Linked DNA regions of Homo sapiens. The protein of the gene in region 3 purifies or fractionates together with the protein of the main gene of each other region. This does not show direct contact. Each region holds a gene or a part of one and is shown on either strand. Other genes may lie near its edges.

What was found.
Region 1: the proteins of IDS (region 3) and LOXL2 purify together in Homo sapiens (affinity purification with mass spectrometry; 2 studies listed by BioGRID and IntAct, with this or other methods). This does not show direct contact.
Region 2: the proteins of IDS (region 3) and CUL1 purify together in Homo sapiens (affinity purification with mass spectrometry; 3 studies listed by BioGRID and IntAct, with this or other methods). This does not show direct contact.
Region 4: the proteins of IDS (region 3) and AP3M1 purify together in Homo sapiens (affinity purification with mass spectrometry; 2 studies listed by BioGRID and IntAct, with this or other methods). This does not show direct contact.
Region 5: the proteins of IDS (region 3) and FKBP14 purify together in Homo sapiens (affinity purification with mass spectrometry; 3 studies listed by BioGRID and IntAct, with this or other methods). This does not show direct contact.
Region 6: the proteins of IDS (region 3) and P3H3 purify together in Homo sapiens (affinity purification with mass spectrometry; 3 studies listed by BioGRID and IntAct, with this or other methods). This does not show direct contact.
Region 7: the proteins of IDS (region 3) and CERCAM purify together in Homo sapiens (affinity purification with mass spectrometry; 3 studies listed by BioGRID and IntAct, with this or other methods). This does not show direct contact.

The regions. Positions count from the first base shown.
Region 1 is NC_000008.11:23,296,397-23,299,758, reverse strand, and holds the end of LOXL2 (lysyl oxidase homolog 2 precursor), read left to right. Parts: intron 1-811; coding exon 812-923; intron 924-1,636; coding exon 1,637-1,716; 3' UTR 1,717-2,862; downstream 2,863-3,362. UniProt on the Homo sapiens protein: Mediates the post-translational oxidative deamination of lysine residues on target proteins leading to the formation of deaminated lysine (allysine).
Region 2 is NC_000007.14:148,750,903-148,754,402, reverse strand, and holds part of CUL1 (cullin-1), read right to left. Parts: intron 428-3,500; coding exon 253-427; intron 1-252. UniProt on the Homo sapiens protein: Core component of multiple cullin-RING-based SCF (SKP1-CUL1-F-box protein) E3 ubiquitin-protein ligase complexes, which mediate the ubiquitination of proteins involved in cell cycle progression, signal transduction and transcription.
Region 3 is NC_000023.11:149,476,488-149,478,897, reverse strand, and holds the end of IDS (iduronate 2-sulfatase isoform a preproprotein), read left to right. Parts: 3' UTR 1-1,910; downstream 1,911-2,410. UniProt on the Homo sapiens protein: Lysosomal enzyme involved in the degradation pathway of dermatan sulfate and heparan sulfate.
Region 4 is NC_000010.11:74,140,829-74,144,328, reverse strand, and holds part of AP3M1 (AP-3 complex subunit mu-1), read left to right. Parts: intron 1-3,500. UniProt on the Homo sapiens protein: Part of the AP-3 complex, an adaptor-related complex which is not clathrin-associated. The complex is associated with the Golgi region as well as more peripheral structures.
Region 5 is NC_000007.14:30,016,703-30,020,202, reverse strand, and holds part of FKBP14 (peptidyl-prolyl cis-trans isomerase FKBP14 precursor), read left to right. Parts: intron 1-1,079; coding exon 1,080-1,207; intron 1,208-3,500. UniProt on the Homo sapiens protein: PPIase which accelerates the folding of proteins during protein synthesis. Has a preference for substrates containing 4-hydroxylproline modifications, including type III collagen. May also target type VI and type X collagens.
Region 6 is NC_000012.12:6,826,941-6,831,206, forward strand, and holds the start of P3H3 (prolyl 3-hydroxylase 3 precursor), read left to right. Parts: upstream 1-1,466; 5' UTR 1,467-1,500; coding exon 1,501-1,998; intron 1,999-2,918; coding exon 2,919-3,071; intron 3,072-3,412; coding exon 3,413-3,614; intron 3,615-3,698; coding exon 3,699-3,830; intron 3,831-4,266. Other genes in the region: GPR162 (probable G-protein coupled receptor 162), read left to right, coding at 1-264. UniProt on the Homo sapiens protein: Part of a complex composed of PLOD1, P3H3 and P3H4 that catalyzes hydroxylation of lysine residues in collagen alpha chains and is required for normal assembly and cross-linkling of collagen fibrils.
Region 7 is NC_000009.12:128,423,857-128,427,356, forward strand, and holds part of CERCAM (inactive glycosyltransferase 25 family member 3 isoform a precursor), read left to right. Parts: intron 1-281; coding exon 282-416; intron 417-553; coding exon 554-758; intron 759-3,500. UniProt on the Homo sapiens protein: Probable cell adhesion protein involved in leukocyte transmigration across the blood-brain barrier. Does not express any beta-galactosyltransferase activity in vitro.

The DNA.
Region 1 (3,362 bases), on a different chromosome or scaffold from region 3:
CCTGCTGTGGGTCGCAGCCCTTCCAAATGTGGCAGGACCCTCGAGGGAAGGCCTGTCATCTGTGTCCTCTGCCCCTCTGTTCACCACTGTTGTCTCTTCTCCCTCTCCCTCCCTTTCTCTTTTCTCCTCGGGTCCTCACCGTAAACCTCCCCTTTTCTGTTCCCTCACAGACACTCTCCCAGAATATGTCCTTCCTATTCCTGCTGTAGCTGGGGGGATGCGGATACAGGGGTGGGTGGAAGGATGGGGAGAGGGTGCAACTTCTCCAGCAGCCCCAGAGCCAGGCCCTCGGCCAGCAGAGCAGACAGGGACATGGATCCCCAAGTCCCACCTGTCACTTTACAGAGAGAGGAAGGGACATGTCCACAGTCACACGCCTGTGACGAGTGTCCCATCTCCAACGCCCAGGCAGCCCTCTTCCAGGTTCCCACACCGCCAGGTCCTCCCTGCACCCTTCTGCTTCTCTTCAGCATCTTCTTTTTGGGGCCTCCCCAGACCCCAACTTCTGCCTTCCCCAGAACTCCCAGGAGTGGGTGACCCCCTTCCGAAGGCCCACCCTGGGTAGAGGGGTGTGTGTTACACGGATATGGACAGAGGGCAGGGTTTCCCTCTTCCAGGCCATGCTTCCTCTGCTCCCTGACTCATCTCTTCCCCTCCCCAAGGACTTTGTTGAGACCCACAGACCCCCGTCTTGGGTCCCGGCACCTGCCACGCTCCCCTTCCCTGAGGTGCTGGTCTCTCAGAGCCCCAGGCCTGGGTGGAGGTGGCCGCAGAGGGAACAAGCAGCCTCCTCTGCCCTGCTTCTCCCTAGGTTGTTATTAACCCCAACTTCGAGGTTGCAGAATCCGATTACTCCAACAACATCATGAAATGCAGGAGCCGCTATGACGGCCACCGCATCTGGATGTACAACTGCCACATAGGTAAGGCCAGGCCGCCCCCACTCCAGGAAGCAGGCGGGAGCTGCCCTACTTTCTCAAGGACCCAGAGGCAGCTTCCTAATTTGGGTAAAGAGCTCGGGGAATGCAGCCAGCATCACATTTCCACATTCAGGACAGAAGCCACAGACACACAGGCCTGGATGGAGACTGAGTTTTTACAGCCAGCTCCGGCCACGGATAGAGGATGGTACAGGACCAGGCCAGCCCAGTGCAGACCCCAAGGCTTTTTAAGGGTTGGAGCTGAGGCCACTGGCTCATTATGTATGTGACCTCAAAAATGTGGGCATCAGCAATCTGTGGGCTCTGCCTATCAGGTTTTTCTGTCGAGAGCTGGAAGCTAGCAAACTACTGTTATTTCTAGTCTCCAATAAAGACACTTTTTTCCTTGGATGATAGGACTTGGGGAACAAAAGGGAAGGCAGAGCTTTTTCCTCTGCAGGAAAAGTCATGGGCCTCACTCTTGGCAAAAGGTTAAAATTAAAGGCGCTATATTTATTCACTCGTTCACTCAACTTTGACAGAGCACCTGCTATGTGCCCAGCCCTAGAGATGGCCAGTGCCTGGCACCTGTCCTTTTGAGGAGGGCACACACAGGTGGCCCCAGCAGCCCCTGAGGCCCACTCCCCTGGCTCAGGGTCAGGCAAGGCCCGAGCATCTCATTTGTCCACTCTCTCTACCCGATTCTCGCTCTTCAGGTGGTTCCTTCAGCGAAGAGACGGAAAAAAAGTTTGAGCACTTCAGCGGGCTCTTAAACAACCAGCTGTCCCCGCAGTAAAGAAGCCTGCGTGGTCAACTCCTGTCTTCAGGCCACACCACATCTTCCATGGGACTTCCCCCCAACAACTGAGTCTGAACGAATGCCACGTGCCCTCACCCAGCCCGGCCCCCACCCTGTCCAGACCCCTACAGCTGTGTCTAAGCTCAGGAGGAAAGGGACCCTCCCATCATTCATGGGGGGCTGCTACCTGACCCTTGGGGCCTGAGAAGGCCTTGCGGGGGTGGGGTTTGTCCACAGAGCTGCTGGAGCAGCACCAAGAGCCAGTCTTGACCGGGATGAGGCCCACAGACAGGTTGTCATCAGCTTGTCCCATTCAAGCCACCGAGCTCACCACAGACACAGTGGAGCCGCGCTCTTCTCCAGTGACACGTGGACAAATGCGGGCTCATCAGCCCCCCCAGAGAGGGTCAGGCCGAACCCCATTTCTCCTCCTCTTAGGTCATTTTCAGCAAACTTGAATATCTAGACCTCTCTTCCAATGAAACCCTCCAGTCTATTATAGTCACATAGATAATGGTGCCACGTGTTTTCTGATTTGGTGAGCTCAGACTTGGTGCTTCCCTATCCACAGCCCCCACCCCTTGTTTTTCAAGATACTATTATTATATTTTCACAGACTTTTGAAGCACAAATTTATTGGCATTTAATATTGGACATCTGGGCCCTTGGAAGTACAAATCTAAGGAAAAACCAACCCACTGTGTAAGTGACTCATCTTCCTGTTGTTCCAATTCTGTGGGTTTTTGATTCAACGGTGCTATAACCAGGGTCCTGGGTGACAGGGCGCTCACTGAGCACCATGTGTCATCACAGACACTTACACATACTTGAAACTTGGAATAAAAGAAAGATTTATGAAACGTGTCTGTGTTTCCTTTGACCCACAGCACCTGGGCCCTGAGCAGCAGGCTTCCTATGTTCAGTGGCCAGAAGCAGAGCTTCAGGTACATTCGTGGTTTTCTCCGGTGGACATGGGTCCTCAGATCCCCTCCAGCCCAGTGTGGCCACCAGGGCACCTCCTTCAATAGACTCCAAAAGGGGCAGCTCCTACCATCTGGGAGAAGCAATCTAAGGAGATCACAAAAAGTAACGGAACAGGAGTCATAATCTTTCTTGAACTCCTGTGGTTTTTACTGAAACTTGTCAGAAGGCATAGGAGTTGTGCGAGGGCTGGATGGGAAGTCTAGATTTAAACAACAGCCACCAGGCAGCTTATCAAAGCAAGAGGGCATCCGTTCACAGGACAGGGGCTCCCAGCAATTCCCAGTGGCAGTGGGGGGGTGGCTGGCCCATGCGACTCACCCAGACACAGGGGACTTCCCCTTGTGTCAACAGCATGCTAGGGCCCAGCAAACTAGAGGGTAGGTAGGACCACCTTGGCACCAACTCCACTCAAACCACAATTGAATGAGGGCGTCGGCACGCATTCAGATCTCACCTCTTGCCTTTGTTTACATTTATTTTGCAGGAACTGGCACTGACTGACAGGTAAGACCAGGACCAGCCCAGGGGTCCCAGAACTGTCCCACAGCACAGGCCAGAAGGCTGGATACCTGAACTGCCAAAGGAGTGTGGGCAGGTGCTACACAGCAGGTGCAACCCAGCTCCCAAAATTGGGCAGGCTGTGCACAGAGGCCCTGCAG
Region 2 (3,500 bases), on a different chromosome or scaffold from region 3:
CCAGGAGATCAAAAATCCAGCCTGGGCAACATAGTGAGATCTCCATCTCGAAAAAACAAAACCCTAGAATATAGTTTATGGTGATTTCATATTCACAGTAGGTAAAAGACTATGCAATAGCAAAACACTGTCACCTACGTTAGTGTCTAAAACAGTAACAGATGACAGTGAAAGATTTAACAAGTTAGAACCATTATTTCACTTTTTTTATATCCTGTTATGAATACTCAGTATATATATAAAACATCTTACCTTAAGAAGATTTGTCAAGTAATTCTTCAAAAATTCCTTAAGTCGTTTATATAATTCCAGGCCAACAAACTGAGCTCCTCCAGGTGTCTGCCCCTTTTTCGACTTAGAAGGAGGAACTCCAGCTCCTCGTGCTTGGTTTGACTGGTGAACACTAGTACAGTAGTTATAAACATGACTTGGAGAAAAGTTAAGGAAACCAACATATATCACAGACGTTAACGGTCATTAACATAAACATATTTTCTTATATTTCATTACCAATGCATTCCCAATATATCAACCAAAACCTGTTAAAAACTAGAATGGAACAAAGATCCCATTCACACTATCCATAAAGCTAAAAGTCAACAAGCCCCATTCACAAGGTTGTTGGTAGGCCTTGAGAGCAACACCGCCAAGGTGGAGAAGGGAACATTCCAGGAGGGAGGTTGCCTATAAAAAAATCTGGACCTTTTAGATTATCTGATGTGACTGACCTTGTGGAAAACTGTCCCAAAAGAAAAATGCAATTACTGACTCCAGGAAAAACAAAAAGCTAACAATAAGCACTGTCTATTATGATGCTCAGCTGTAACTTTTTCAGAGGCACAGATTCTAAATATTGAAATAACACAAACTTTATTTTAAAATGACTCAGAGAGCCAAGTCCTTATATTACAATAGTCATAGCCATCTAAAACTTATCAGTGAACGGCAGCAGTGTCCACACACTCCTGAGAAAGAGAGAGATGTATAAACCACAGCACAGACAGCTGATTGCAAAACAGCTGCATCTGCAGGGGGAGCGCAGAGAATGAGAAGATGGGGCCAGGCAGGGCAGAAAACCACCGTGTTCTGTTGTATCCTTTAAATATGATGAGCTTATCTGCATGTATTATTAATTGAATAAAATGAACGGAAAGATACTTATACTCAGAAAGATCAACAAAACAGAACAAAACAATATTCTGGTATAATTAAGAATTTACTATATAAAGATACTTCAAGACAACGGGTAAAAGATAGATTATCTAATAAATGGCATGAGGGCAAGATATTTCTAAATATTCCATGTTATATTCCAAAATATATTACAAATGGATTAAGATTTAAAATATACAAGCTAAAACAGTAAAACCAAGAATATATATGTGAACGCTTATCTGTTCTCAGGCTGGAGCGGCCCTTTCTAAGTAAGATCACACAAAAAAATGAATTCAGGCTGGGCGCGGTGGCTCGCGCCTGTAATCCCAGCACTCTGGGAGGCCGAGACAGGTGGATCACAAGGTCAGGAGATTGAGACCATCCTGGCTAACACGGTGAAACCCCATCTCTACTAAAAACACACACAAAAAATTAGCCGGGCGTGGTGGCAGGCGCCTGTAGTCCCAGCTACTCGGGAGGCTGAGGCAGGAGAATGGCATGAACCCGGGAGGCGGAGCTTGCAGCGAGCTGAGATCATGCCACTGCACTCCAGCCTGGGCGACAGAGCAAGACTCTGTCTCAAAAAATAAATAAATAAATTCAAAATTGTAGATTAAGATGAAATACCTTAAACTATCTTTAATAAATTAAGGTAATTTAAAGCAATTAAAAAAATGAATCTCTATGGAAACATGAACAAAATATACCACAGAAAATCTAAAAGGTAAAATAAATATATACTAATGCCCCCAAACCTAATAAAATAACCAATCTAGGTAATAATCAAAGAACTATACTTTAAAACAATGAAAAATTATTAACTATTTCAATTGTATAGAGAATCACAGATTACAATAAACAACTACTGTATACTCATGACCCAGTTTTGATAGATCTTACTGCATTCCCACACTTGTCTCATATTCCACCTACAGCCTCCCTCAACTTTTGAGAAAATAAAATATTACAGGTTATAAGTGAAGCACTATATTCTCCCTCTTTCATCCCACTCCTTCCTCTTACCCTAGCAAATAGCACCATGATTTGGTATATATCATTCCTATGTTTTTATATTTTGCTGGATAAATGTGTATCAAATATATTTCACATGTTCTACATTTTGTTTTGTTTTTTTTGAGATGGAGTTTCACTCTTGTTGCCCAGACTGGAGTGCAATGGCGTGATCTCAGCTCACAACCTCTACCTCCTGGGTTCAAGCGATTCTCCTGCCTCAGCCTCCCGAGTAGCTGTGGTTACAGGCAGGCGCCACCACGCCTGGCTAATTTTGTATGTTTAGTAGACATGAGGTTTCTCCATGTAGGTCAGGCTGGTCTCAAACTCCCAACTTCAGGCTATCCAGCCTCCTCGGCCTCCCAAACTGCTGGGATTACAGGCGTGAGCCACCGCGTCTGGCCATGTTCTACATTTTTAAATTATACAAACTGTAATATGTACATTTGCTCTGCCATTTGTTTTTGATGGTATCTGACATAGCCGCAGCTGTAATATACTGTGTAACGCACATTTACAATACTTCATCAACTCTCTTGGTGGTGGACCTTGCTAATAGTCCTTTTGGCAGATACCTATTTTTTGTGTATTTACAAAGCTGCAAAGAATAAAACTAGCAGGTCTCCTTGAGTACAAGTTTCTTGGAGCACAGAAATACTAAGTGACAAAGTGACAAGAGAGGTTTTTTTTTTTTTTTTTTTTGAGACAGAGTCTCACTCTGTCTCCCAGGCTGTAGTGCAGTGATGTAATCTCGGCTCACTGCAACCTCTGCCTCCCGGGATCAAGCGATTCTCCTGAGTAGATGTGATTACGGGCGCCTGCCACCATTCCTGGCTAATTTTTGTATTTTTAGTAGAGACAGGGTTTCACCATATTGGTCAGGTTGGTCTTGAACTCCTGACCTCAGGCAATCCACCTGCCTCGACCTCCCAAAGTTGCTAGGATTACAGATGTGAGCCACCTTGCCAGGCCCTTTTAAACAATTTTTTGTAGAGATGGGGTCTTGCTATGTTGCCCTGGCTGGTCCAAAATTCTTGGGCTCAAGCAATCCTCCTGTTTGGCCTCCCAAAGTGGTGGGTTTAACTTTATTAAGAGTTGCCAACTTAGTGCTACAAAGCGGCTATCCAGCACCCTGTAGTGCATGAGTTTTCATCGACCACAACCTTGGCCTTGCATTCATACTGTGGTTTATTATGGTTTTAATATCCATTTCTAGGGCATAGACAGTTTTGTTTTGTTTTTTTTTTTTTTTAAAGAGACAGGATCTCACTATGTTGCCCAGGCTGGAGAGCAGTGGCTATTCACAGACATGATCATAGCAGGCTACTGCCTCA
Region 3 (2,410 bases):
TCACCTTTTAAAATAATCAAACATATTTATCTTTTCCTGTGTGATAGGTTTTTTTCTGTATCTTTTCCTGTTAAACACACAGACCCCTCCCCAATCTGGACATTGAATAAATATTCATTTTCCTTTGCATTGTTTGGGGTTTGGTTTTATGCTTACTGTGTCTCTCCACCCCATTATCAGAGTAATATATGCTCATTGCATAAAATCTGGAACATGTGAAAACTGGAGATGAAAAGAAGCCCAGCATTTGAGACATACCCACTGCTGACATTTGTATATTTCCTTTCATTCTTTTACCTGCCTAAAGACATATATGCAGATATGGACATATTTAGCTTTACATACATGCAGACTACCACATATAATCTATATCTTGTTTTTTTGATCTAACACAATGTTAGCTTGGTTTTTTATGTCATTGACAGTTCTTGATTAACAGCTGTAATGGCTGCACAGCCCTGCTTCATTAATTTTTTTTTTTGGACTGAAATGTATGTACCACGTTCCGCTTATCCATTCATCCACCAGTGACCACTTGGGTCATTTCTACCTTTTGGCCATTGCAATAATGTTGCTGTCAACAAGGATGTACAAATATCTGTTCGAGTCCCTGCTCTTAATTGTTTTGGGTATACACCCAACCTACATTAATCTTTAATCACTTAAGATGTTGGGGTTTGTGCTGGGAGGTAACCAAGTGACTCTGGAGCAGCCTCACCCTAGCTACAGAGGGAAACTGACTCTTCCCTCTCTGCCCAATCTTTTGCCGCCTGTCAGGTTCCCAAGCTGTCCATACCTTACTGTGTGAAGCGCTTTGGGTATAAACTCCCAAATAGAGGCTCAGCCCCTTTTCCTTTCCCAAGTCCATCCTGCAGGTTATAGCTCTTCAGAGGAATCTCTTGAATTCTGGCCTGGGATCTGGGATTAAAGTAGAACCCAGGGTGTCCCTTGGGGCCTTAGGCATAGCCCGTTGTGGTGGAACCTGCCATCAGCCCCACTGCACTCAGTGGTCCCCTGGTACTTCAGGACAGTTTCTCTCTTCTGCACATGAGAACTTCAAGCAGAGAGGACTGTCAGTTGTTGCCTTCACATCACCAATCGTTTGGCCATAATGGCCAAGAGCCCTCACTGCTCTTGGGTCTTGCCTTTCCACATGTTACTGAAAGCTCCCGTTGGTGTCCCTGTCCACTAACTCACCTGATGGGACAGATGCCACTTTCCTCTGAGTGTCTGATAAAACACAGTCTGTTGTGGGGAGCCCACGCTCAAGGGTTTTCTTTGGGATCAGAGTTTCCCGGCTATTACTCCATGCCCTGCCTGACATCACTGTCATGTATGGTGCTAATCACCAAAGGATGCCCTTGTTTGATTCTGGATTCTAGGTGATAGTCCTTATCCTCTGATGGGGGAAGAGTTTGGGTGGGAGAGAACAAACCGACAAGTTGGTTCCAGATGAGGTGGCTGGGAGCCAACCCTCAGGTACTTGGCTCTGAGTAATGTGACGGCCCAGGCAAGAGGGCTCCCACTGCCAATGAGGAACAAAAGCTCAAGGTCTAGTAGTGTATTCAGCACATGCTAGGAAACAAGAGTTGGGACGTGGACAAGGAGAGGAGCAAAGGCCAGGGGTTAACTGCTTTTGGTTTTTCCTCTATAAAAGTCAGGGACTATGATTTATATGGGTGAGAAGGTTTGGAGTAGGACTGAAGCTGCCATTTACAAACCCCTTGCCCTAATTTATTGTAGTTTTGGGTGTGTTTCTGAAAGAACCTTTTGCAGGTGATTTTTATTCAGTACTCATTAACTTACAGCTTTTATGAATTCACATCTTCTACACTATTGAAAAACATAAGTTTGTATTGTGTTAAGTGCAGCATGAGTTATTATATGAATAAATCACATTAAATTTGCCATTATCGTGTGTGCAATTCTTGCTGCTGGTTTGGGACCGCTTGGTGCTGCCTTAAAATAAAAGGAGCCATTTAACAGAGCTTGATACCGTGGTACAGGTGTGCCCCCTTAAAGTATCCAACCTGTTCCTCCCCATGTGAGGGCCAAGGCAGCTGTGGTGTGGGTTTTATTAGGGAGTTGAATTCTTGAGGGTAGATGGTGAGTTGCACTTGACCATAGACACACTTTTCTGGGCAGTGGTATGTCTCTCAGCTTGCCCTGCAGTTACAGTACAGAGACTCCCCAGAAAGAAAGAGGAAGTGGGCTGACCAATTAGGTAGGCTTAGGGAAACCATATATGCAATAGCAACAAGGTAAAGGAAGCAAATTAGTGGGTTCTTGGGGTTCCAACTGGAAATTTGCCTGTTTAGTGGTCTTGGCTTAGTGTCTTCATGAGCCTTAGTTTATCTTTTTCTACCTATCCTACTGGTTTCGACTAAAAATTCGGAAGGCAGTGCTTCTT
Region 4 (3,500 bases), on a different chromosome or scaffold from region 3:
GACGCAGCTGCACTCCAGCCTGGGCAACAGAGCGAGACCCTATCTCAAAAAAAAAATAAAAATAAAAAAGCCGGGCATGGTGGCTCACGCCTGTAATCCCAGCACTTTGGGAGGCCGAGGCGGGTGGATCATGAGGTCCGGAGATCGAGACCATCCTGGCTAACATGGTGAAACCCCATCTCTACTAAAAATACAAAAAATTAGCCAGGCGTGGTGGCGGGCTCCTGTAGTCCCAGCTACTCGGGAGGCTGAGGCAGGAGAATGGTGTGAACCTGGGAGGCGGAGCTTGCAGTGAGCAGAGATCACGCCATTGCGCTCCTGTCTGGGAGACAGAGCAAGACTCCGTCTCAAAAAAAAATTAATTAAAATTTCAAAAAAATTAAAACTTCAGTATTGGGTACATTAGCCACATTTCAAGTGCTCAATAGCCATGGGTGTAGTGGCTACCATATTAGCACAGATAAAGGACATTTCCATCATTGCAGAAAGCCCTGTTGGACAGTGCTGTATTAGAACGTGTTCCTAATAATTAGTCTCTACAAGGCAGATAAGAGCAGGAGCTCAGAATTCAGCTGGATTTAGGTTTGAATCCTAGCTTACTGCGTGATCTTAGGTAATTGACCTAACTTTTCTGAGATGACATTGTCTTATCTGTAAAATGGGGATAATAGTAGTATTTATGGTGTAGCATTGTGAAAATAAGATGAGATAAAGTGTCTAGCATAGTGTCTGGCCCATAATAAGTACTCAATACATTTTAGATAGTATTAATTCATTTATTATTCATTATCTTTAATGAATAAAACACTTTGAATGGGGACTGAGTACAGTAGCTTCACTTTGGGAGGCGAAGGCAGGCGGATCACTTGAGGCCAACATGGTGAAACCCCATTTCTACTAAAAACAGAAAAACTAGCTGGGCATGGTGGTGCACACCTGTAATCCCAGCTACTGAGGAGGCTGAGGCACGAGAATTGCTTGCCCATGGGAGACGGAGGTTGCAGTCAGCAGAGATCACACCACTGCACTCCAGCCTGGGTGACAGTGGGAGACTCTGCTCAAACAAACAAACAAGCTTTGTTCCCAAGTAGCTGGGATTACAGGCGCACGCCACCATGCCCGGCTAATTTTTGTATTTTTAGTAGAGACAGGGTTTTGCCATGCTGGCCAGGATGGCCTTGAACTCCTGACCTCAGGTAATCCACCAGTCTTGGCCTCCCAAAGTGCTGGGATTACAGGCGTGAGCCACTGTGCCTGGCCAAAAATAACCACATTGAATGGGGCCAAAAGATTAATTTTTGCAAAGAATGCTGTGTTCCATATGTGACTCACCTGAAGTGCCCAAATCTGAGTCTGCTTGTGGATTACAGTGCTCCACTTGAAGTCATACATTATATATTTCAGATGCTGATTTTCTTCCAAGAAAAAGGTGTAATAATAAAAATTTAGTTGCAGATCTTATGGTTGGATATTCCTGTTTCATTTAAAAAATGAAAATGAAAAGTTTATCAGCTAAAGATTATAGTTAAAATCAGCAGGTTCTATATAGCAAGTCTAAGTATTCTAATGGCACTTATATTAATACCCAGACAGAAATATAAGACACAAAGCAAGCCTACTAAGCAAAGCATCTGACTAGATAAAGTAGAAAAATTTGGCAGGTTCCAACCCTGAGGTGTCAGAGTTTATTGCTAATAACTCAAGTTGATTTCTTGGCTAAACAGAGGGCTTTAAACAAAGAAATTTTTTGGTTCTAATTAAACAGGAACCCTAAACTGTTAACAGTATTCATACTTTATTAATACAATAATTACTAAAACATATCTTAGTAACTAGTATTATTGATAACTACTGAACATGTGTCGAATGGGAAGAGGAGATCATCACCACATATTCTTTAAATGTCAGCCGCTTTCATAAAAGAAAGGGTTGATGTTGTTTTCTGTCAACAGAATCAAATGAATCAATTCTGGAAAGTCTTCCTTTCCTCTTTGGAATTTATCTTCATTCATAGAAACTGTATTCATAGGTCTTAAATTCTTTCTTCTTAGACTATAGTACTATTACTTGGAATGATTGAGCCACTAGACTAAACACCTGATACTGGTGCTTATACACGTAAAAGATAGGAACAAGGTAAGATAATTAGACATTTTTCCATTGTCCCCCATATTGCAGGGACAATAAACTTCTTATAGGAAGCATAACTAACACTCAGAAAGTATGCAAATCACAATGTAAAGCCTAATGAGTTATCATAGAAGGAACACAGCTTGTAAACATCATGCAGGTCAAGAAATAAAACATTGGCCAGGTGCGGTGTCTCACTCCTGTAATCCTAGCACTTTGGGAGGCTGAGGCAGGCGGATCACGAGGTCAGGAGTTCAAGACCAGCCTGGCCAACATAGTGAAACCTCGTCTCTATTAAAAATACAAAAAAAAAAAAAAACTAGCCAGGTGTGGCGGTGTGTGCCTGTAATCCCAGCTACTAGGGAGGCTGAGGCAGGAGAATCTCGTGAACTTGGGAGGCAGAGGTTTCAGTGAGCCGAGATAACACCATTGCACTCCAGCCTGGGCGACAGTGTAAGACTCCATCTCAAAAAAAAAAAAAAAAGGAAAATAAAAAAGAAATAAAACATTACCAGCACTCTAGGAGATCATCCCCATGGCCCTCCACTCTCCATAAAGGAAACCATTTGATTTAACGTAGATTAGTTTTGCCTGTTCTACAACTTCATATAAATGGAATCATACTGTGTATATTCTTTTGCATCTGGCTTCATTTATTCAACATCGTATTTGTAAGATTCGTTTGTATGTATATATTCTTTGAGTAAATGTCTTTTCAAATCCTTTGCCCATTTTTTAATTGGCTTGTTTATTTATTTATTTTTTATGTTTTAGAGGCAAGGTCTCCCTCTGTCACCCAGGCTAGGGTGCAGTGGTGGGATCATAGTTGACTGCAGCCTCAAACTCCTGGACTCAGGCAATCCTCCCACCTCAGCCTCCCAAGTAGCAGGGACTACAGGTATGAGCCACTATGCCTGGCTAGTTTTTAAATTTTTTTATAGAGACGGGGTCTCAAACTCCTGGGCTCAAGCAATCCTCCCTCCTCAGCCTCCCAGAGTGCTAGGATTACAGTTGTGAGTCACCACACCTGGCCCTTCTTATTATTGAGTAAAAGTTCTTTATATTTTCCGGATAGGGGTCCCTTTAAGATATATGGTTTCAAATATTTACTATCATTTTGTGAATTTTTGCTTTCTTGATAATGTCCTTTGAAGCACTAAGTTTTAAATTTGATGGACTCTGGGTTATCTATTTTTTATTTTTCTTGTCTGTACTTTTGGTATCGTATCTTAAAAAACATTGTCTAATCCAGAGTCAAAATCTATGCATATTTTTTCTAAGAGTTTTATCATTTTGGCTTTTCCAATTAGGTCTTTGATACATTTTGTGTTGCTTTTTGTATCCAATTTCATTCTTTTGTATGTGGAAAT
Region 5 (3,500 bases), on a different chromosome or scaffold from region 3:
GCACACTTTATAAGTCTTCTCTTTGGAATTTATGAATGTTCTTTCATGGAAATATGTGGGATGGGGGGAGGATGACTAAGAAATATTTAACATGTTTACACAGACCTGTATGTTAAATATAGTTATAAGGAAACAAGTTTGAGAAAAACAATTGTCCATACTCCACAGATGGGTGTGTTTGTTTGTTTGTTTGTTTGTTTCAGGTTCCTGGGATTTTAACAAAGCTCTTTTCACTTTTAAAGATTTTTAATTTCCCTTCTCAGAAATTCATTTTAATTTCTCCCCTCCCATGAAATGTCTTCAACATATATATAATGTTCTATATCAGAGGTAGTGTTTCCTAACTTTCTGAAATTGTTAAACCTTCCTGCATTATTTTTAAAGCCTGTGAGAAAATTATACCTCAATAACATGTATTGAGAGTTTACTATTTGTCAAGTTTAATGCTAAGTATTTTGCATGGATTTTTCTCCCTTTATCCTCCCAACAGACTCCTGAGGAGGAAATTTATTATCTGCATTTTATAGATGAGGAAATTGAGGCTTAGAGATGGGCAAATGTAAACTTCAGCCTCAGACAGTGTGACACCAGAGCTTACTCAATTATATGGGTAGAAATGCCTTCTAGTGGTAGAAATGGCAATACTGTATGTATTTCTAGGTCAGGACTTTCTGACCAAAAAGTTAGTTTATTACTTTTAATATACTTAACTCCGAATTATCTAAAACCCTTCAAGTCCTTCTTGACATATAATATGTAATATATTAATTATATTAGAAATGTAATACCTAAGCCATTAGGTACATCTCTATGTATGTATATGCATTGTGTGTATGTGTATTTACATTTTAATTGCTAAGCCAAAGATAGAATGCTTTTGCTCTGCTAGTGTATATTATTTCTTCTTTTACTCTATTCTATTCGAGTAAAATATAATATACATAATTTTCATCATATATGACAATCTTAGGAAGGCTCTTTAATTCAGTTAAAAAAAATACTTTGTCCATTACCATAAATTTTCTATTATTAAAACTTTTGGCTCTTTTAAAACTTTCTGCCTTCTTTCCTCACGTCAGGTAAAATTCCCCCAGAAAGTACACTGATATTTAATATTGATCTCCTGGAGATTCGAAATGGACCAAGATCCCATGAATCATTCCAAGAAATGGATCTTAATGATGACTGGAAACTCTCTAAAGATGAGGTGACCTTTCCTTCTTCCTACTCCTCTTTCTACTTTTCTTTGGTTGTTTGGGGTTTTGTTTTGTTTTGTTTTTGTAACTCACTTTTTAAATGAATATGTGTATATTTCAAATCTACTTTTATTTAGGTAACATTTATTTATAAGTTTTCTTAAAATACTGATGCTTTGAAAGTGGACTTTTTCATAGTGAATCACTGTTTTGGAGAGAAATATATTAAGACTTAAAAAGCACCATTCAATCTTTTGCTTTTTTCTTCCCAATGCTTAGGGTTCACTGTATCTTATGCTTACCCTTGGGTCTTTGAAAGAACAATTTTGCCAAGACAGTTTCCATCTGGAGTTACTGTATAAGAAGCTAGCTGTCCTGAGAAATATCTCATGTGGACAGTTTCTGTTAAAACTGTAGACTGGCTGTTAAATACATCTTGTAGTGTTTTCCTGGCAATTAACAGCAAGCAACTTACATGCTCTGTTTTGTTCAGGTTGCCCCAGAGAAAAGAGACCCCAGCCTGGGTTTTACACAGCAGGGCTCCAGCCCCATCAAAATCTGAGCCTTTGGGTAAAGAGAAAGGAAGAAGAGGCTTCTCCTTATAATTCGGCCATTGCTACACATACCTGTCTTAGTCTGGCTGCTGCGGGGAAAGAAGTGGAGGGAGATATTTATTCCTGTTTTTTATCTACTCACACTCCATTCTGTCCTGACTGGTCAGATATCAAGTCCCTTTCTATGCTTTGATCAAATTCATTCTAATGGCCAGGAAATGATTAAGTCTTGAATAAGCCAAATTGTTACGAACCAGGGGTTCATGATCCACAGCCACTAAATTTATAACACCTCATAGTATTACCAGTCACATGCCTTTTTCTTCCATCCAAGATAAATTTTAATTCCCTTTCATTAAATAATTTTGAATATATAACACAGTCACATGGTTCAAAACAAAAATCTATTTATTTATTTATTTATTTATTTATTTATTTATTTATTTATTTATTTCCTGAGAGGGAGTCTTGCTCTGTTGCCCAGCCTGGAGTGCAGTGGCAAAATCTCGGCTCACTGCAACCTCTGCCTCCTGGGTTCAAGCAATTCTGCCTCAGCCTCCCAAGTAGCTGCACCATCATGCCTGGCTGATTTTTGTATTTTTAGTAGAGATGGGGTTTCACCATATTGGCCAGGCTGGTCTCAAACTCCTGACCTCGTGATCTGCCCACCTCGGCCTTCCAAAGTGCTGGGATTACAGACGTGAACCACTGTGCCCAGCAGAAAGATATTTATTTAAAAGTCTTAGCTGGGTGAGGTGGCTCACACTTGTAATCCTACCACTTTGGAAGGCTGAGGCAGGAAGATTGCTTGAGGCTGAGACTTCAAGACCAACCTGGCCAACATAGGAAGACTTTATCTCTATTATTTACTGTTTTTTTTTTTTTTAGACGGAATCTCACTCTGTTGCCAGGCTGGATTGCAGTGGTGCGATCTCAGCTCACTGCAGCCTCTGTGTCCCGGGTTCAAGCGATTCTCCTGCCTCGGCCTGCCAGGTAGCTGGGACTACAGGTGCACGCCACCATACCCAGCTAATTGTCGTATTTTTAATAGAGACAGGGTTTCACCATGTTGGCCAGGATGGTTTCAAGCTCCTGACTTTGTGATCCGCCTGCCTTGGCCTCCCAAAGTGCTGGGATTACAGGTGTGAGCTACCGCATCCGGCCTATTATTTACATATTTTTAAAAGTCTTTCTCCTACCTACATCCTCTTCTATTCTATTATCCCCACATCCAGTTTTATTAATTACTTTTTTCTTTCTTTCTGTTTTTTTTTTTGTAGAGATGAGGTCTCGCTATGTACAAGCATGCACCATTGCACCCGGCTTAGTTTTATTAGTTTCTAATATATCCTTTCAGTGTTTCTTTCTGCAAATCCAAATACATAGTCTTATTTCCCCCTTTCTTACACAAAAAGAAGCAAACTATACATGCTGTTTTGTCGTTTTGCTTTATTCACACAATATATCCTAGAAATACATTCTACATTAATCCATAGAGTTTAATGGATTAATGGATCTCTCCCCCACCCCTTTTTTTAACAACTGCATTAAATCACTTTAACTTAAAAATAAATATATACTATATGTGTACTTCTTGAAAGCTGGGGGAGAGAGGATTTGAAATTGCTGGTCTAAACAGAAGGAAGAGAGGTGATATAATTAAAACTGAAAATATAGGCTGATTTTCATTGTGGTGAATCTTGTGGGAAATTGAAAACAATATTTATATTTTTAAATATCTGAATGAAAT
Region 6 (4,266 bases), on a different chromosome or scaffold from region 3:
CGGGAGGAGATCACCACCTTCATCGATGAGACACCTCTGCCTTCTCCGACTGCCTCACCAGGGCACTCTCCTCGTCGGCCCCGGCCACTGGGCCTCTCACCCCGCCGACTCTCCCTTGGGTCCCCTGAGAGCAGAGCCGTTGGACTTCCTTTGGGACTAAGCGCAGGGAGACGCTGCTCCCTGACGGGGGGTGAAGAAAGTGCAAGGGCTTGGGGAGGATCCTGGGGCCCAGGCAACCCCATCTTTCCCCAGCTGACCCTGTGAGCCCAAGCAGGCCTGCTGAACTCAGAGGAGAAAGCCTGAGTGAGTAACACCTCATTCTGGCCGAGAGTAGGGCAGCTGCCTCCAGACTCTGGGGAGACGGGCGCTAGATTTGGGGCTCAGAAGGCCCTGCTCTCTCCCATCCAAGTGACCAGATGCCCTACTCAGCTTCCATCACCCCTAGCAATATGTATTAAAGTCTGAAGTGTTGCCATGGAAACCTCAGTGTCCAGTGTACTGCGGTGGAAAGGGGCTTGGAGGGTGGAGTGGCTCACAGGGGACACGACAGAGCAGGGGCAGCAGACAGAGGCACAGAAGGACACATGGAGAAATGATCACATGCTCCACCAGGCAGCCTCGCACAGGGAAGGCTGGGAGGAGCATATCCTGCTGGGGGCGGGGCTTGAGGACACACATCTTCGTTGGTTGGGGTATGAAGGATCTCTGTTCAGATTTGTTGAGGTGGTTTTAGAGCGTGGCTCCAGCCCCAGTGCCCAACTCTCCTTCTAACCTCAAATCCATGCAGGGGCTCACTTTATGGGCAGGAAAGGTTTTGGGGCTGATGCAGTGTCCCGGGCCTGGACACCTCCTCCTTGCTGCATTTTAAAGCTCTTTCTCCAAAGGAGTGCAGGGGTGGATGAGTGTGTGTGTGGGCGGGGGTGGGAGTGCAGGGGTGGATGAGTGTGTGTGTGGGGGAGTGCAGGGGTGGATGAGTGTGTGGGGGGGGTGGGAGTGCAGGGGTGGATGAGTGTGGGGGGGTGGGAGTGCAGGGGTGGATGAGTGTGGGGGGGTGGGGGGGGGCGAGGGGGGGATCGGCGTCCACACTCCTTTTTCTGGACCCAGAAGCGTGTGTGTGGAGGGAACACAGCCCCAGTAGTTACCCCCAGACCTCAGGGGCTGAAGTCACCGCTGGGGCTGAAGTCATCCTTCATGGATGCCCAGGCCTGCTCCAGTTCCCGCCTTTTGCCCTCCTCCTCCCAGTTTCTCCCTCTTATTCCACACTAGACCAGCTTTGTCCACTCAGCACTCTTCTCTCTCCATCTTTTCACATGGGCCTCTCCCACCATCGGGTCTCAGCCCCATCTTCTCTCTCTCTCTCTCTCTCGGCCTCCCTCATTATTTCTCCCTCTCCCTCCGCCTCTCCATCTCTCCTTCCTCCCCCTCCCTCCCCTTCCCCCCTTTCCTCTCCCTCCCTCTCGGCTCCCGCATTTCCCCTCGGCTGCCGGCGGCTCCGACATCATGCTCCGGCTCCTCCGGCCGCTGCTGCTACTGCTGCTGCTGCCTCCCCCGGGGTCCCCTGAGCCCCCCGGCCTGACCCAGCTGTCCCCGGGGGCGCCCCCGCAGGCCCCCGACTTGCTCTACGCTGACGGGCTGCGCGCCTACGCGGCCGGGGCTTGGGCGCCGGCCGTGGCGCTGCTGCGGGAGGCGCTGCGGAGCCAGGCGGCGCTGGGCCGGGTGCGGCTGGATTGCGGGGCGAGCTGCGCGGCCGATCCGGGCGCCGCGCTCCCCGCCGTGCTTCTCGGGGCCCCGGAGCCCGACTCCGGGCCGGGACCCACGCAGGGGTCCTGGGAGCGACAGCTTCTCCGTGCAGCGCTCCGCCGCGCAGACTGCCTGACCCAGTGCGCAGCACGGAGGCTGGGCCCCGGGGGCGCGGCGCGGCTTCGCGTGGGGAGCGCGCTCCGGGACGCCTTCCGCCGTCGGGAGCCCTACAACTACCTGCAGAGGGCCTATTACCAGGTGGGGAGCGGGCCGGGCAGCTCCGAGGGTCCCAGCCCTCACCACGACGCTGTCCTACTTTGCGTTGCCCAGGAGTAGGCGGAATGCTGTTGCCCGGGCCCCGCACGGGGCTGGGGAGCGTACCGCGGGCCTCTGCGTAGGAGCTGGCTAAGCGACCGCGAGGACCTCTTGAGATCGCAGAGGAGCAGCCGAGGGGGAGTGCGAGCAGAATGGGAATGGGGCGGGGAGGTCGTGAGGTGGGACGGGAGCAGATCGAAGATGGAGGGACAGGGCCGCCTCTTCCTAGGAATGAAGCGGAGGCGGTGGGGGCGAAACCGGCTCTCGGACGGGAAGTGTGCGTGGGTGTGTGTGTGTGTCGGGGGTGGTGGTGAGTGTGAACCTTCGCTTGGGGCAGGAGGTAGCTTCGGAAAGGAAGGAGCAGACGGAGGCAAGGTTGGGGTCCTCCGAGGCCAGACCTCTGCGGGCGGGGAGGGGACAGCACGCCGCAGCCGCCGGTACCGCAGCAGTTGCCTACGTGGCTGGGGAAGCGGGGCGCCGGTTGTACTCACCTCAGCTCAGGGTCCTAGAGACCTGCGGGTTTTGCTGGTCGCTGAGGTCTCCCCCACTTCCCCACCTCACTTAAGCCATCACTTCCACCTGGTCTCCCAAATTGAGGTCCTGAAGTCCTGAGACCCATGTCCCACCCAACTCCGACGTCTTTAGATCCCCTTTCCCTCGGTGCCAGCCTTCTGAGAGTCCCAACGTTCTGGCCTCTAGGGGATCTGCAGTTCGGGCGGTGGGCGGTTCTGATTGGCCAGTCTTCCATGAGGCTCTGGGGCACCCAGAGTGTGTGTCTGGGGTAGGGTGGGGAGGCTGGCCAGGGGGCAGAGGTCTGCCCCCCGTCCCAGGGCTCTGATGCCCTCCTCCCTTCGCCTCCTCAGTTGAAGAAGCTGGATCTGGCAGCTGCGGCAGCACACACCTTCTTTGTAGCAAACCCCATGCACCTGCAGATGCGGGAGGACATGGCTAAGTACAGACGAATGTCGGGAGTTCGGCCCCAGAGCTTCCGGGACCTGGAGACGCCCCCACACTGGGTGAGAATCCCAGCACCACCCCTGTCTTGCCACCAGCCTTTTCCTGGCTGGATACACAGGCCTCACTAAACTGTGCGTTGTGCTGCTTGAGCATACAGATGGGGTAATGATCCTCAGCGACCCTGGCTGGGAGTCCTTCTCTAGGACTTCGTTTCCTTCCTGGATGATCACTGAAATCTGATGTTCTAACATTATGATTCTGAGGCCCACCCTTATTCTTCTCCACGGTGAAGAGGGACATGGAGTCCTTGCCCCAAATGAGACCAACACCCCTCTCCTCTCTACCTCCCAGTTTGGCAACCCCTGGATCTTAGGTGACTGACTGCTCCCTTCCCCAACAGGCAGCCTATGACACTGGCCTGGAGCTACTGGGGCGCCAGGAGGCAGGACTGGCACTGCCCAGGCTAGAGGAGGCTCTTCAGGGGAGCCTGGCCCAGATGGAGAGCTGCCGTGCTGACTGTGAGGGGCCTGAGGAGCAGCAGGGGGCTGAAGAAGAGGAGGATGGGGCTGCGAGCCAGGGGGGCCTCTATGAGGCCATTGCAGGTAAGGGTCCCGTGTGTGAGGGGGTGGGTCGGTGCCCAGGGAGGGGCATGAACAAGCTGAATGGCTTATGGGTTTCCTCTGCAGGACACTGGATTCAGGTCCTGCAGTGCCGGCAACGCTGTGTGGGGGAAACAGCCACACGCCCTGGTCGCAGCTTCCCTGTCCCAGACTTCCTTCCCAACCAGCTGAGGCGGCTACATGAGGCCCATGCTCAGGGTCAGTTGGGGAAGGGTGGAAACGGGGAGTGAAGATTTGCCTCTGCTGCTATCCTGAGCTCCATCTCTCTATCCCTCCCATCTGTCTCTGGATTTGTAGTTTCACTGTCAGGGCTGCATGGGAACCATCACTTCACAAGGACTCTAATTTGCCCTCCTTTGGCGCCTGTGACAAGCTCAGGAGATGGGCTTCCTTCTGCCTTGCTGCTTCTCACCTTCCTTTATTTTCCCCCCTCTTGCTCTTCTTTGAACTCTCCAGCTAAGGTATGTTTGCACCAGTGTTTGAAAGAACCGGCAGCTGAACTTGTCTGCCAGTGGGAAGGGGGCTCTTGGAGTTAGCTGTCTGGCCTCTGGAGACCACCTTCTCCAGCACTGCCTCTGCCCCAAGGATCAATGTGCTCTAAGTATTCATCCCCCAACCCCTGACCTTGTCGCTC
Region 7 (3,500 bases), on a different chromosome or scaffold from region 3:
AGAGCTCAGAGTAGGTGTTTGGATCCATTTTCTAAGCCAGATCCCAGATAAAGGTCTTAGATCAGTAACTCAGGTATAATCTCTGGACCCAGTCCCTGAGTCAGTGCCCCAGACTAGAGCCTTGGTCCAGAAACAGATGTACTGAGTTTGTGAGACCTCTGTAAGAGCATTCCCACTGGATCCTAGGAGCCACGCTGGGTCTCTGGCAGGACCACTCAGTGAACTCCTTGGGGGGCTGCAGCCCAGGCAGGGCTGGAGCCTGTGACGTCCCCTCCTCAAAGTTTGCAGACACAGACAACATTCTGACCAACAATCAGACTCTGCGGCTTCTCATGGGGCAGGGGCTTCCAGTGGTGGCCCCAATGCTGGACTCCCAGACCTACTACTCCAACTTCTGGTGTGGGATCACCCCCCAGGTGAGGCCGGGATGGGGGCCTTGGGTGGACTGAGGTCCTGGAAGGAGGGACGTGGAGAGCAGAGAGCCTGAGGCCTTGGGGTCTGTGGGCAGGGGCAGGGGAGCCCTCTCACAGCCCAAAGCATCCCTTTTCCCCAGGGCTACTACCGCCGCACAGCCGAGTACTTCCCCACCAAGAACCGCCAGCGCCGGGGCTGCTTCCGTGTCCCCATGGTCCACTCCACCTTCCTTGCATCCCTGCGGGCTGAAGGGGCAGACCAGCTTGCTTTCTACCCGCCACATCCCAACTACACTTGGCCTTTCGACGACATCATCGTCTTCGCCTATGCCTGCCAGGCTGCTGGTGAGGACCAGCCCTCCTTTAGCATTCCTTGGAGGCCTCTGCACATTTGCACATGCTATTCCAGCTGCTTACCATGCCCTTCCCTACTCTGCATTTCATCCTGTTAACCCATGAGTTACAACTTTGGGTCATGAGTTTTCTTTTCTCTCTCTTTTTTTTTTTTTTTGGTGTGATCTCGGCTCACTGCAAACTCTGCCTCCCGGGTTCAAATGATTTCCTGCCTCAGCTTCCCGAGTAGCTGGGATTACAGGCACCCGCCACCACACCCAGCTAATTTTTGTATTTTTAGTAGAGACGGGGTTTTGCCATGTTGGTCAGGCTGGTCTCAAAACTCCTGAGCTCAGGTGATCCACCCGCCTCGGCCTCCCAAAGTACTGGCATTACAGGTGTGAGCCACCCGCCCAGCCAGTGGTTACTTTTAAGATGAAAGGTTTTTTGTTGTTGTTGTTGTTGTTGTTTTTGGGACAGAGTCTCACTCTGTCGCCCAGGCTGGAGTGCAGTGGCCGATCTTGGCTCACTGCAAGCTCCGCCTCCCGGGTTCAAGCCATTCTCCTGCCTCAGCCTCCCGAGTAGCTGGGACTACAGGCGCCCACCACCACGCCCGGCTAATTTTTGTATTTGTAGTAGAGATGGGGTTTCACCGTGTTAACCAGGATGGTCTCGATCTCCTGACCTCGTGATCTGCCCGCCTCGGCCTCCCAAAGTGCTGGGATTACAGGCGTGAGCCACCGCGCCCAGCCAAGATGAAAGTTACTAGAAAGAGTTTGGGTATGGCCAGGCAAGGTGACTCAGACCCTAATCTCAAAGTCTTGGGAAGCTGAGGCTGGAGGGGAAATCACTTGAGCTCAGGAGTTCGAGACCAGCCTGGACAACATAGCAAGACCTCATCTCTTTTCTGCCCTTTTTTTTTTTTTGAGATGGAGTTTTGCTCTTGTTGCCCAGGCTGGAGTGCAATGGCGTGATCTTGGCTCACTGCAACCTCTGCCTTCCGGGTTCAAGCAGTTCTCCTGCCTCAGCCTCCCGAGTAGCTGGGATTACAGGCATGCACTGCCACGCCTGGGTAATTTTGTGTTTTTAGTAGAGACGGGGTTTCTCCGTGTTGGTCAGCCTCGTCTCGAACTCCTGACCTCAGGTGATCTGCCCGCCTCAGCCTCCCAAAGTGCTGAGATTACAGGCATGGGCCACTGAGCCCAGCCCAGCCTTTTTTTTTTTTTTTTTTTTTTGAGACGGAGTCTTGCTCTGTGGCTCCCAGGCTAGAGTGCAGTGGCACAATCTCAGCTCACTACAGTGTTGACCTCCCCCACCTCAGCCTCCCACGTAGCTGGGACCACAGGTGCACACCACCATGCCCAGCTAATTTTTGTATTTTTTGTAGAGATGGGGTTTTGCCGTGTTGCCCAGGCTGGTCTTGAACTCCTGGGCTCAAGTGATCTGCCCCCGCAGCCTCCCAAAGTGCTACAATTACAGGCGTGAGCCACCGCCCCCGGCTGCGAGATCCCATCTCTACAAAAAAATTTAAAAATTAACTTGGCGTGTTGGCCCACGCCTGTAGTCCCAGCTTCCTGGGAGGCTGAGGCAGGAGGATCGCTTGAGCCCAGGAGGTAGAGACTGCAGTAAACTGTGATCATGCCACTGTACTCCACCTTGGGCAACACAAGATGAGACCCTGTCTGAAAAAAAACAGAGAGTAAGAAAGTGTTTGGGTTTGGATGGAATAAATCCAGTCCTGGCCAGGTGCGGTGGCTCACGCCTGTAATCTAAGCACTTTGGGAGGCCGAGGCAGGTGGATCACGAGGTCAAGAGATTGAGACCATCTTAAGACGGTGAAACCCCGTCTCTACTAAAAATACGAAAAATTAGCCAGGCATGGTGGCGGGTGCCTATAGTCCCAGCTACTCGGGAGGCTGAGGCAGGAGAATGGTGTGAACGCAGGAGGCAGAGCTTGCAGTGAGCCGAGATCGCGCCACTGCACTCCAGCCTGGGCGACAGAGCGAGACTCTGTCTTAAAAAAAAAAAAAAATCCAGTCCTGAGGATGAGAGGGAGGGGTGGAGACACTGATGTTGGAGTGAAGCTCTTGAGAAGGCTGCAGAGAATATGTAATTCCGACCCTGAAGACTATCTGGTGCATGGAGAAGAACTTTGCAGGTGCTCAGGGTAAATTAGAGGTGACGATTTAATCAAGTAATCAGTGGCAGCCGGTAAGGAGGATGTTGTAATTCTTTGTTTTGTGCTGGAGAAGTCTGCAGTGTGCAGACATGCAAGAAGAAATCTTACCAAGTGCAAAAAGTGAGTGAAGGTGAAACAATTGGAGGGGAAAACACAAGAGGAAACAAAAGCATTCTGTTATTTTTAATTTGCTAGCCCTACTTCAAGCGACAGCCGTTGTTAATTGGTCAATGGTTTGAAGGAATTCAGTCTCTAACAGCCAGATACTACATCCCGGCTCTGGGCCAGGCTCTGTGCTCAATGCTGGGAATAGGGTTAGCTTTTATTTGTTTTTTGTTTGTTTTTTTTTAAGACAGAGCTTTGTTCTGTCGCCTAGGCTGGAGTGCAGTGGCGCGATTTTGGCTCACTGCAACCTCTGCCTCCCGGGTTCAAGTGATTCTCCTGCCTCAGCCTCCTAAGTAGATGGGATTACGGGCGGCCACCACCACAGCCGGTTAATTTTTGTATTTTTAGTAGAGATGGGGTTTCACCATGTTGGCCAGGCTGGTCTTGAACTCCTGACCTCAAATGATCTG